Linked DNA regions of Homo sapiens. The protein of the gene in region 1 purifies or fractionates together with the protein of each later gene. This does not show direct contact. Each region holds a gene or a part of one and is shown in the gene's direction. Other genes may lie near its edges.

Region 1 (7,230 bases):
TATTAGTCCATTTTCATGCTGCTGATAAAGACATACATGAGACTGGGAAGAAAAAAGGGTTTAATTGGACTTACAGTTCCACATGGCTGGGGAGGCCTCACAATCATGGTGGGAGGTGAAAGGCCCTTCTTACATGGCAGGAGCAAGAGAAAAAATGAGGAGGAAGCAAAAATGGAAACTCCTGATAAACCCATCAGATCTCCTGGACTTATTCACTATCATGAGAATGGCATGGGAAAGACTGGCCCCCATGATTCAATTATCCCCCTGGGTCCCTCCCGCAACACTTGGGAAATCCGGGAGATAGAATTCAAGTTGAGATTTAAGTGGGGACACAGCCAAACCATATCACCTACCTCTACAAAAAATACAAGAATATTAGCTGGGTGTGGTGGCGGATGCTTGTATTCCTAGCTACTTGTGGGGCTGAGGTGGGAGGATCGCTTGAGCCCAGGAGGTTGAGGCTGCAGTGAGCTGAGATTGCGCCACTGTACTCCAGCCTGGGTGACACAGCAAGATCTTCTCTCAAAAAAAAAAAAAAAAAGAATACAGTTATGCCCATTCATTGAGTTATAGTCTATGTCTCCTTTTGCACTGCAATGGCAGAGTTTAGTTGTGACAAGAAGTCAATGGTATTTACTATCTGGCCCTTTACAGAAAATGTTTTTTGACCCTTGTTCTTGGCTCACAAATGCTGAGACAACATGTGAAAAGCACCATGATAGAAAATATTTCTAAGGTATAATTATCAACATTTTTTTTTTTTTTTTGAGACGGAGTCTCGCTCTGTCACCCAGGCTGAAATGCAGTGGTGTGATCATGGCTCACTGCAGCCTCCACCTCCCAGGCTCAGGTGATCCTCCCACCTCAGCCTCCTAAGTAGCTGGGACTACAGGTGCGCGCCACCACACCAGGCTAATTTTTGTATTTTTTTAGAGACAGGGTTTTGTCATGTTGCCCAGGTTGGTCTCCAACTCCTGGGCTCAAACAATCTGCCCGCCTCTGCCTCCCAAAGTGCTGGGATTACAGGCATGAGCCACCCTGCCAGTCAGTGTCAACTCTTTGAAACAAAATAACCTAAAGGCAGCTGTATCCACACACATAAATTTATAAAAAATCTATCTTGAGGGGTAAATGGCTTTTCTTTTGAAGCTGAAATTCCTACTCACACACCTCTGAGCATTGCCCCTGAGTCTGGGTCAGATTTGTGTTCCCAGAGCATCAAAGGTGTTTGTAAGCAAGTGCACATGTCATTTGGTAACAGACATCCAGCACAGTTGAGAAAAGCTTTATATATAAATTATATTTTATCAATCCTTGATAAGAATCTTCAGCAAAATGACCCATGACCATTTCATGACTGTTATTCAAAGAACTGAATGTGATGTGACTTAGAGAAGTACTAACACTCATTTCAAATTTACCCCTTGGCCTCAGACAGGATTCCAGCCAGAACTCAGCCATGTGTGGTGCCAAGTGGAGTTAAAAACTGCACAGTGTCTTCTTGTTCCAGCCTTTGAGGTTGCTAAGGTCAAGGGTGGGCATGGGAACATGCCAGTCATAAGATGATTCTCCATCAGCTCTACAACCCCCTTCTACACTCTGCTATGTGGTGCCAGGTCTCAGCAGACCTCATTTCTGCTTTTTCAGCTGGCTTCCAGAAGGTTATGCCCATAGGGTCTGTCAGGGGGACACCGGAAGGCAGGAGGAGGGAGAAGGGACTGGCTCCTGCCTGCTGGCTGTTTCTTTCAGCAGTGCCACAGCAATGACTCTTCATCACTCTGATAGAATCAGCTGGCTCCAGTCTCCAGCATTTTTTTTTTTTTTTTTGAGACAGAGTTTCACTCTGTTGCCCAGGCTGGAGTGCAGTGGTGTGCTTCGCTCACCACAACCTCCACCTCCTAGGTTCAAGAGATTCTCATGAACCTGGGATTACAGGAGTATGGCACCATGTCCAGCTAAGTTTTATATTTTTTAGTAGAGACAAGGTTTCACCATGTTGGCCAGGCTGGTCTCGAACTCCCGACCTCAAGTGACCCACCCACCTCAACCTCCCAAAGTGCTGGGATTACAGGTGTGAGCCACTGCACCTGGCTCCAGTCTTCAGCTTTTCCACACACTCTTAGAGCCACCTGCATATCCAAGCAACACCCCCTTCCCATGGGTCTGAGTCCCAGCTTTCCAGGACCTCTCCTCCAAATTTCTAGTTCTGAGAATCCCAACCTAATCCGTTTGTTCCCCTAGATCGAGGCATGATGCCTACTTCCTAAAGGCTTTATCTCTGTGTTACCTCGTTTTCCCTTTCTGCTTTTTTCAGTTATCCCTACTGGATTAGCCAATTCCTTATACTAAATTATCTCTGGTGAAATACCTAGTAAACCTTGTGTTTTCCAGACTGGACCCTTACTGATAAGGCAACATGTCACAGAATCATTTGACACACAGGCATAAGAAGCAGAAAAAAAAAAAAGTGGATCTGCTAATGCACTTTTTTTTTTTTTTGACAGAGTCTTACTCTGTCGCCCAGGCTGGAGTGCAGTGGCACCATCTCGGCTCACTGCAACCTCTGCCTCTTGGGTTTAAGCAATTCTCATGCCTCAGCCTCCCAGGTAGCTGGGACTACAGGTGCGCACCACCATGCACAGCTAATTTTTGTATTTTTAGTAGAGATGGGGTCTTGCCATGTTGGCCAGGCTGGTCTCAAACTCCTGGCCTCAAGTGATCTACTTGCCTCAGCCTCGCAAAGTGCTGGGATTACGGGCATGAACCACCGTGCCTGGCCAAATTTTTTTGACATGGTCTCATTTTGCCACTGAGGCTGGAGCGCAGTAGCTCAATCTCAGCTCAATGGCCACACCTGGCTAATTTTTGTACTTTTTTTAGAGACGGGGTTTTGCCCTGTTGCCCAGGCTCCTCTCAAACTCTTGAGCTCAAGTGATCCACCAGGCTCAGCCTCCCAAAGTGCTGGGATTAGAGGCGTGAGCCACCACGCCTGGCCTTAATGCACTAACTTGCTCAGCCTCTTTGGCAAAAATTATTTCTCACAGAAGTAATGAGTAGAACAGTAGTTACTAGAGGCTGGGAAGGATAGGGGGATAGGGAGAGGTTGGTTAAAGTATACAAAATTACAGCTAGGTAGAAAGGATAAGTGCTAGTGTTTCATAGCATTGTAGGGTGCCGACAATTAACAATAATATATTATAAAGGTCGAGCACGGTGGCTCAAGCCTGTAATCCCAGCACTTTGGGAGGCCAAGGTGGGCGGATTGCTTGAGCCCAGGAGTTTGAGAGTAGCCTGGGCAACATGGTGAGAACCCCTCTCTACAAAAAATGCAAAAATTAGCTTGGCATGGTGGCATATATCTGTGGTCCCAGCTACTTGGGAGGGAGGCTGAGGTGGGAGGATCACTGGAACCTGGGAGGTGGAGGTTGCAGTGAGCTGAGATCGTGCCACTGCACTCCAGCCTGGGTAAAAGAGCGAGACCCTGTCTGAAATTTAAATAATAATAATAATTTATTATGTATTTTCAAGTAGCTAGATGAGAGGATTTTGAATGTTCTCAACACAAAGTAATGATAAATGTTTGAGGTGATGAATATGCTAATTATCCTATTTTGATCACTACACATTGTATGTATCCAAATATCACTATGTACCCCCATAAATATGTACAATCATTATGTGTCAACTCAAATAGTTAAAAAATATATTAAAAGAGGGAAAGGCAGAACGCTTCCTGAGAGCAAGGACCTCCTTTGTCGAGGTCAGGGCTGTGTCTTCAGCAACGAAACACTATCTGGGACTTAGTACATGCTTAAGAAATAGGTGTTGATTGACAGAGCTCCCAAGAGCTCCACAAGGGTCCCCCTAGGACTGTCACAGGTTCTTGTATGTCGGAGGGAGAGGTCTTCCCCTTCGTCTCCTTGGGGGGAGGGGAAGGTGTTGGGGAACAACTGCCCCTTCCTCTATCTCCCTCGCCCCTCCTTCCCCATGGCCCCCTCCCCCGTCCTTCTACCTTTCTCCTTCCCAGCCCTTTCCGGTTCTCCCCCGACCCTTCACGGCTCCTCTTCCCGCCGCTCCTCTTCCCGCCGCCCCTCTTCCCTCGCCACCTACCGCTGCTTTTCCTCCCATTCTCGCCCCGCCCCTTCCCCCGCCCTCCCCGCGCCCCGTCGCACGAGCGCTCCCTGCGAGTGGCGCAGGTAACAGACCGCAGGGGCAAGACAGCCGGCGCGGGAGGAGGATGGCGCTGTCGGTGCTGCGCTTGGCGCTGCTGCTCCTGGCAGTTACCTTCGCAGGTAGCGCTCGGAGCGGTCCTGGCGAGCGGGGACCTCCGGAGAAAAGCGGGTTTGGGAGTCAGACCGGCGGCGGACCCTGCCCTGCTCCGGGCGGCCTCGGCGACGGTACCCGCGCGCCCGTTACTGGCGGTTCCCCAGAGGACCTGCCAGGTGGAGGAACGCGAACTGGGGGTTGTGGGGGTGGCTTTGTGGAGTCAGCCACCCTCTTTAGTTCTTGCTTGGGCTTCGCTCCCAGCTCTAAGGACACCTGCCATCTAGAGCGCTTTCTCTGTTAAAGTAGATTTTCAGGTGCCCAAGATGAGGAGTTGAGTTTTTATGTATGGTCCCAAGGGAGGAGATGTGCAGGAATGAGGAATTGTGGATGCTTACGAGAAAGGGGCTTTAGTCCAACCACACTGGACACCTCTCTTAAAATGGAGTTAAAATGCTCACATCTTATATTAAATTTTGTATTTGTTACCCCGAGTTGTAAAGGAAAATAACATCATGAACTATTAATTAAGGGTTACTTCCTTGGCCAGGTGTAGTGGCTTGGGCCGGTAGTCCCAGTTACTCCGGAGGTTGAGGCGGGAGGCTCGCTTGAGACCAGGAATTGAAGCTGCAGTGCGCTAGCGCGACTTTTATTCCATAGCTTCAAAGTCCTTTCTCAACCAACCCTAATGGGAACAGAACCAAATGTTATTTCTATGTGCTTTTGGGGAGAGGTGCCATAAAAAACTGAATATCCTTTCTGGGGGAAGTGGGATGGGGACAGTTTAAAGAAGGTAGGCATTAGAGGGGAAAATAGAAGATGTGGCCTGGATAAATCCCAAACTGGATTTTAAAACATCCTTATGAAGCTGGATGTGGTGGCTAATGCCTCAAATTCCAGCACTTTGGGAGGCCTAGGCAGGAAGATCGCTTAAGCCCGGGAGGTCAAGACCAGCCTGGGCAACATAGCAAGACTTCATTTAAAAAAAAAAAAAACTTCATGAACAATACCTTACCTTGATCCTATACTGTAAAATGTCTATGCTTTCTTCTTACAGCCTCTCTGATCCCTCAATTTGGTCTGTTTTCAAAATATAGAACGGTAAGTAGCAAACCACTTCTACTGTTTCTACTAATACAGTGAAGCCCAAAACCGTTTGGGAGGGAGGCTGGCTTTCAGGTCTGACCTGCCACTTTTGAAACCATTGAGGACTGCGTTTAAAACCAGGTTGTCAGGCAGGCCTTTTGATTCAGATAAAAGTGTAAGTTTTAGTTGAAAACAGCTCAGTCTTTGTGTTAATATTTCCTTTAAAGATTCAAAAGGTCCTTAGAAAAAGTTATGCCTTGTACTAGATATTTTATGTACTTTATCAAATTAAATTCTGAGGATGTAAATGGAGACCAACCAAATGAGAACAAGCAAAGGCTATGTTTTTCAGGGCTTGTTATAGCAAGAGAGTCAGCCACTGTCACTTGCATTTGAGTAGGGACTCGAGTCAAAGAGAGGAGTGGGAAAACTATAGTGGAAAAAAGGAATGGCTTCAGGTATGGCCTGATTGGAGGCTGTTGGCACAGGGAAGCTGTAGGTGAGCTAACTAGAAGCACAACATTCTATGGTATGGGTTAGGGGTGTGTATTTGGTTTTCTCTGGTTGTCCTAAGTTGGAATCAAGGACAGAAATTACGGAAGCTGTCAGTTAGTAATCAAATCCTAACCATTTTGCAGCTGGGCGCAGTGACTCACGCCTGTAATCCCAGTGCTTTGGGAGGCCGAGGTGGGCAGATCACGAGGTCAGGAAATCAAGACCATGCTGGCTAACATGGTGAAACCCCGTCTGTACTAAAAATACAAAAAATTAGCCAGGCATCATGGCACGTGCCTGTAATCCCACCTACTGGGAAGGCTGAGGCAGGAGAATCACTTGAACCTGGGAGGCAAAGGTTGCAGTGAGCTGAGTTCATGCCACTGCACTCCAGCCCAGACAACAGAGTGAGACTTCATCTCAAAAAAAAAAAAAAAGAAAGAAAAAAAAGTCCTAGCCATTTTGGGCTGATTGTTAAAGGGGTTATTGTTTTGCTTCCTGGACTGTCACTAGAGATAGCAGTCTGATTTCCTTCAAGTCTGGCTTATAGCCGGCTGGCCTCCTGGCCTGGTTATTCTAAATAATGGTTTGGGTTCCTGGACAGGATGCTGCAGGTTGTGGGTCAGAGTTCTGTTTTATATAAGGACTAGTCATTGTCTGTATATTTGGTCTCTCAATTCTCACAATGATGTTGTAAGATAGACATTATTTGACATATGAGGATATTGACTTCAGCAGGTTAACTTTGAGCATTCAGCTCAGAGTAGGCTTCTTCCAGGAAGCCTTCCCACGCGATTCCCTTCCTCTAGAGATGTAGATATGTATACACACACACTTTCTCTGTGCTTACCTATACTGCATCATCATCACCATCATAATAATAAATACTTAGATACCTACATGCCACACCAGTGTTCTAAATGCTTCATATATAATAACTAATTTCATCTTTCACAGTACTGTGAGGTAGGGATCATTATTTCATTATTATCCCCTTGGCCAAGGTCACATGGAAGTGGTGGAGCTATGCTTCTCATCCAGGCAGTCTGACTCCAGATCCAGTGCTTTTCTCTACCCTGTCACAACATTAGGTTGTAATTGCCTGTTTGCCTACGTCCTCCAGGAAACTGTATGCATGTTGTCAGGTATAATGTCTTATTTGCTATTTGTTGCTCAGTCTTCAGCATCTCACAGATGCCCAATAACACTTTTAGTCAGTGATTCAGTTTGCTTGGGTTTGATTTTCTTTTAGAAAATGGGAGTTATGGTACCTTCGTTTCAAGGCTGGGATTAGGGTAAAGTGAGTGAGTTCCTACATGTAGAATTTAAGAAGGCACTCACGCTCAGGAGGCAAGGCAAGTGCTGCAGGACCTGCTGTCTTTT
Region 2 (3,638 bases), on another chromosome or scaffold:
GAAAAAAAGCATTCAAGAAATAAAGTTGTGGTTAAATTAATACGCTTCAGTTCCACTAGTGCACTGCTAGAAAAACAGTCCTCCACTAACGTGAAGTCAACTTGAAATAAATATGAAGTATTTAGGTATTTGCCTAAAGTTGCAAAAAGACCTAAGAATTGTTTTACTTAAAAGAAATGGTATAGAGGCCAGGTCCGGTGGCTTATGCCTGTTTTCCCAGCACTTTGGGAGACCAAGGTGGGAGGATCACTTGAGCCCAGGAGTTCAAGACTGACCTGGGCAACATAGCAAGACCCTGTGTCTATTTAAGAAAAAAAAAAAAAAGTGTAGCATCTCTGCGGCCCATCAGTTTTTGGTGTTTGTTTTTCAGTATGCTGGCTCCTAGATCTGCATGTCCTTCTCACAGCACCCCTGCCTGTGCCCTGAGACAGTCTGAAGGCAGCCTAGGACCCGCACTGCCTCCCTCAGAACCTCCCAGGGACTTTGCTAAAACCAGCTGCCTGGGCCCTGCGCCGGAGGCGTCTGGGGAAGCCCCAGAACCTGTGTTTCATTTGTTTTCCCCGATTTTGCCGTGTGGCCACTTTGGGGCCCTGGCATTTGGGAGTTAACTATTTTACCTTCTCCCGCTGCATGTCACACAGACAATGAAGAACTCAAGGGAGGCACATTGCTCCTGTATTTCAAGTGTGGTAGAAGCCGGGTAACACGTAGCACAGCCCTTCCCTAAAAAACCTGAAGGGGAGACCAGCAGGGTTGCCTGTGACTTGGGCCTGGGTTCCCGTTTTTTTTTTTTTTTTTTTTTTTGAGACAGAGTCTTGCTCTGTCGCCCAGGCTGGAGTGCAGTGGTGCGATCTGGGCTCACTGCAAGCTCCGCCTCCCGGGTTCATGCCATTCTCCCGCCTCAGCTTCCTGAGCAGCTGGGACTACAGGCGCCCGCCACCACGCCCAGCTAATTTCTTTTTGTATTTTTAGTAGAGAAGGGGTTTCACTCTGTTAGCCAGGATGGTCTCAATCTCCTGACCTCGTGATCCGCCTGCCTCAGCCTCCCAAAGAGCTGGGATTACAGGCGGGAGCCACTGCGCCCGGCTGCCCTTCCCTTTCTTATGTTCAGCTTTGGGCACAGAGATGGCGTTTTGCCATTGCTCGAGTGGGGGGTGGAAGGTGGCACGGGGCGGGTGTGTGCTCACCTGACTGGACCCTGGCCCCAGGTGGAGCTGGAACGAGCCAAGACGCAGCTGACATCAATGCTCATGATGAACCTGGAATCCAGGCCTGTGATCTTCGAGGATGTGGGGAGGCAGGTGCTGGCCACTCGCTCCAGAAAGCTGCCGCACGAGCTGTGCACGCTCATCCGTGAGTACCGCAGGGGTAGTGAGGGGCTGCCGCAGGCCTCGGCCAGGCTCAGAGGAGGCCGTCTCGCCCTCCCGCAGGCCGTGGTGGGCCTGTGGTATGTCCATCACACCCAGAATCTGGGGCCTTCACCAGTTGTCCTCAGCAGGGGCGGCCAAGGGCAGGGTCGTGGGGTCGCAGACCTGGTCTCACTTCCCGGCCCCACCATGCACCTGCTGCCTCCTTGGCAGGTGACCCCACCCTCTGCACCCCTGGGAGGGGCTGTCACTACTGCCCAGAGTTGTTAAAGAGCACTCAAGTTAGTAGGCGAGAAGGGCTCAGTAGAGGACTGCTACATTGTACGTGGAGTAGCAGTGGCTCGGAATGCCGCTGTACCGTTGCTGGCTCTCGGGCAGGAGTCTCAGCCCCAGGTTTCCGGGGCCCCCATGAGTGACCTTAGGAGGTCTGAATTTCCTGAAACTGCCAAGTTGTATGTGCATCGGACTCTTCTGGGGGACAGGCTTAAAACCTGGCAAGGCTGCCTATTACGTTGGGGTGGCTCGGGCTTATGGTGTCACCTGTGGGCATCTCCTTTCCAGGCCTGGAGTCCCGGGCACTTGCCCTGTCCCGTGTGGGCCCTCGTCCTTCCCTCAGGAGCCCCCGCTTAAATCCTCAAGCGAGTGTCCAGCCTCTCTCGGGCCTCGTTTTCTGTAGAAAACAGACCCACCTGGACCCTATCACTCCTGTCCTGGGGTTCCTGGGTGCAGCCCTTTGGCCTTCTCTCACCCCACCCTTCTGTCCATGCGGCCCTCGGGGGCTGGGGGTTTTTTCTGCAGGCCGTCCTAAAGTGAGTTCATCAGACACGGAGCTCGCTCTTCTGTAAGTGTAACTCTTCTTGGGTGGCTTTGTCCTATATTTTTAAGTCATTGCCATGTCCCCATTTACTGAGAACTCAACGTCTGTCACTTGTGGACTCACCCTTGGCTACACCCAGTGGCTGCCTTTGGGCCCAGGTGCCCCCATCAGCAGCACAGCGTGAGTGAGTGGTACAGACCAGCCGCCCCCTCCGTGTGTTTACTGATGCAGCCTCAGCGTGGGGGCCGTGGCGCGCTCGTGTGACACGCGTTTGCCCTCTGCACTAGGCAACGTGAAGCCGGAAGATGTGAAGAGAGTCGCTTCTAAGATGCTCCGAGGGAAGCCGGCAGTGGCCGCCCTGGGTGACCTGACTGACCTGCCCACGTATGAGCACATCCAGACCGCCCTGTCGAGTAAGGACGGGCGCCTGCCCAGGACGTACCGGCTCTTCCGGTAGAACCGCTCCCCGGCCTGACAGACCCAGGGAGCTGCAGCTGGAGCCCGTTCCCGTGCGTGTTAGTTTGGACACGAATTTAGTCTAAAAAGCTGTCTGGTTGTATAAACGGTGCAAACAATGTCGCCACAGCACCCACGCGGTTTGCATTCTTTTGGAACTCAATGTGCCGATCAGTGGAGTCAGTATCGAGCCTGACCACCGCAAGCCAGGAAGCAGGTGAAGTGCCCAGCGCTGGAGTGCAGCGTGCCACGAGGAGGGCGGTCGGTGCTTCCCTCCTCGGGCTGTGGGCACATGGGGCCCCGCAGGTTCCTTGGAGGAGCCCTGAGCTGGGAGGCAGCAAAGGCTGACCTATCAAAGCCTCCCGGAGGCCACCGTGCTGGGTACCAGGACTCACCTCTGACAAGCAGGAGAAGGTAAGGGCCCGGTCAGCTCCAAGGAGCGCGCTCCACGCGCGTGCACACAGCTTCCCTGGTAATAAAGAGCTGGCATCTTTCTTAGCACGGTGTTTTCCTTCTCGCCTGGGGAGGGGCGGTTCTTAAGGGCTGTCTGAATTGGCAGCTTTTCTAACATGGAGGCCTTCCTCCCTGTCAGTCGTCCGGTTTGACCCCGTGTCTTGAAGCCTGTTCTCGTGCGACGTGCTGATGTCAGGGGTGTCGCAGCATGCATGGGGTGGGGTGACGGGGGGTAATGGTGACCGGCAGCGAAGCCTGCAGGTGCCTTAGAGGTGGGGAGCACCGCCAAGCCGAGGAACGGCCGCAGATGTGGGTGTTTCCAGAGATCCGAAAGGCCGCATGGCTTAGGGAATAGCGGCTACGGGGTAGCCTTTCATGTGGTGTAAAAACTTGTACAAGAGGCCGGGCGCGGTGGCTCACGCCTCTAATCCCAGCACGCTGGGAGGCCGAGGCGGGCGGATCACCTGAGGTCGGGAGTTTGAGACCAGCCGGACCAACATGGAGAAACCCCGTCTCTATCGAAAATACAAAATGAGCTGAGCGTG

Evidence for each region. The genes of interacting proteins can lie anywhere in the genome.
Region 2: the proteins of SPINK2 (region 1) and PMPCA purify together in Homo sapiens (affinity purification with mass spectrometry; 2 studies listed by BioGRID and IntAct, with this or other methods). This does not show direct contact.

What each region holds. Positions count from the first base shown.
Region 1 is NC_000004.12:56,818,673-56,825,902, reverse strand, and holds the start of SPINK2 (serine protease inhibitor Kazal-type 2 isoform 1 precursor), read left to right. Parts: upstream 1-4,201; 5' UTR 4,202-4,240; coding exon 4,241-4,445; exon of another isoform or gene 4,446-4,583; intron 4,584-5,323; coding exon 5,324-5,367; intron 5,368-7,230. UniProt on the Homo sapiens protein: As a strong inhibitor of acrosin, it is required for normal spermiogenesis. It probably hinders premature activation of proacrosin and other proteases, thus preventing the cascade of events leading to spermiogenesis defects.
Region 2 is NC_000009.12:136,420,624-136,424,261, forward strand, and holds the end of PMPCA (mitochondrial-processing peptidase subunit alpha isoform 1 precursor), read left to right. Parts: intron 1-1,208; coding exon 1,209-1,353; coding exon of another isoform or gene 1,354-1,637; exon of another isoform or gene 1,638-2,461; intron 2,462-2,471; coding exon 2,472-2,641; 3' UTR 2,642-3,138; downstream 3,139-3,638. UniProt on the Homo sapiens protein: Substrate recognition and binding subunit of the essential mitochondrial processing protease (MPP), which cleaves the mitochondrial sequence off newly imported precursors proteins.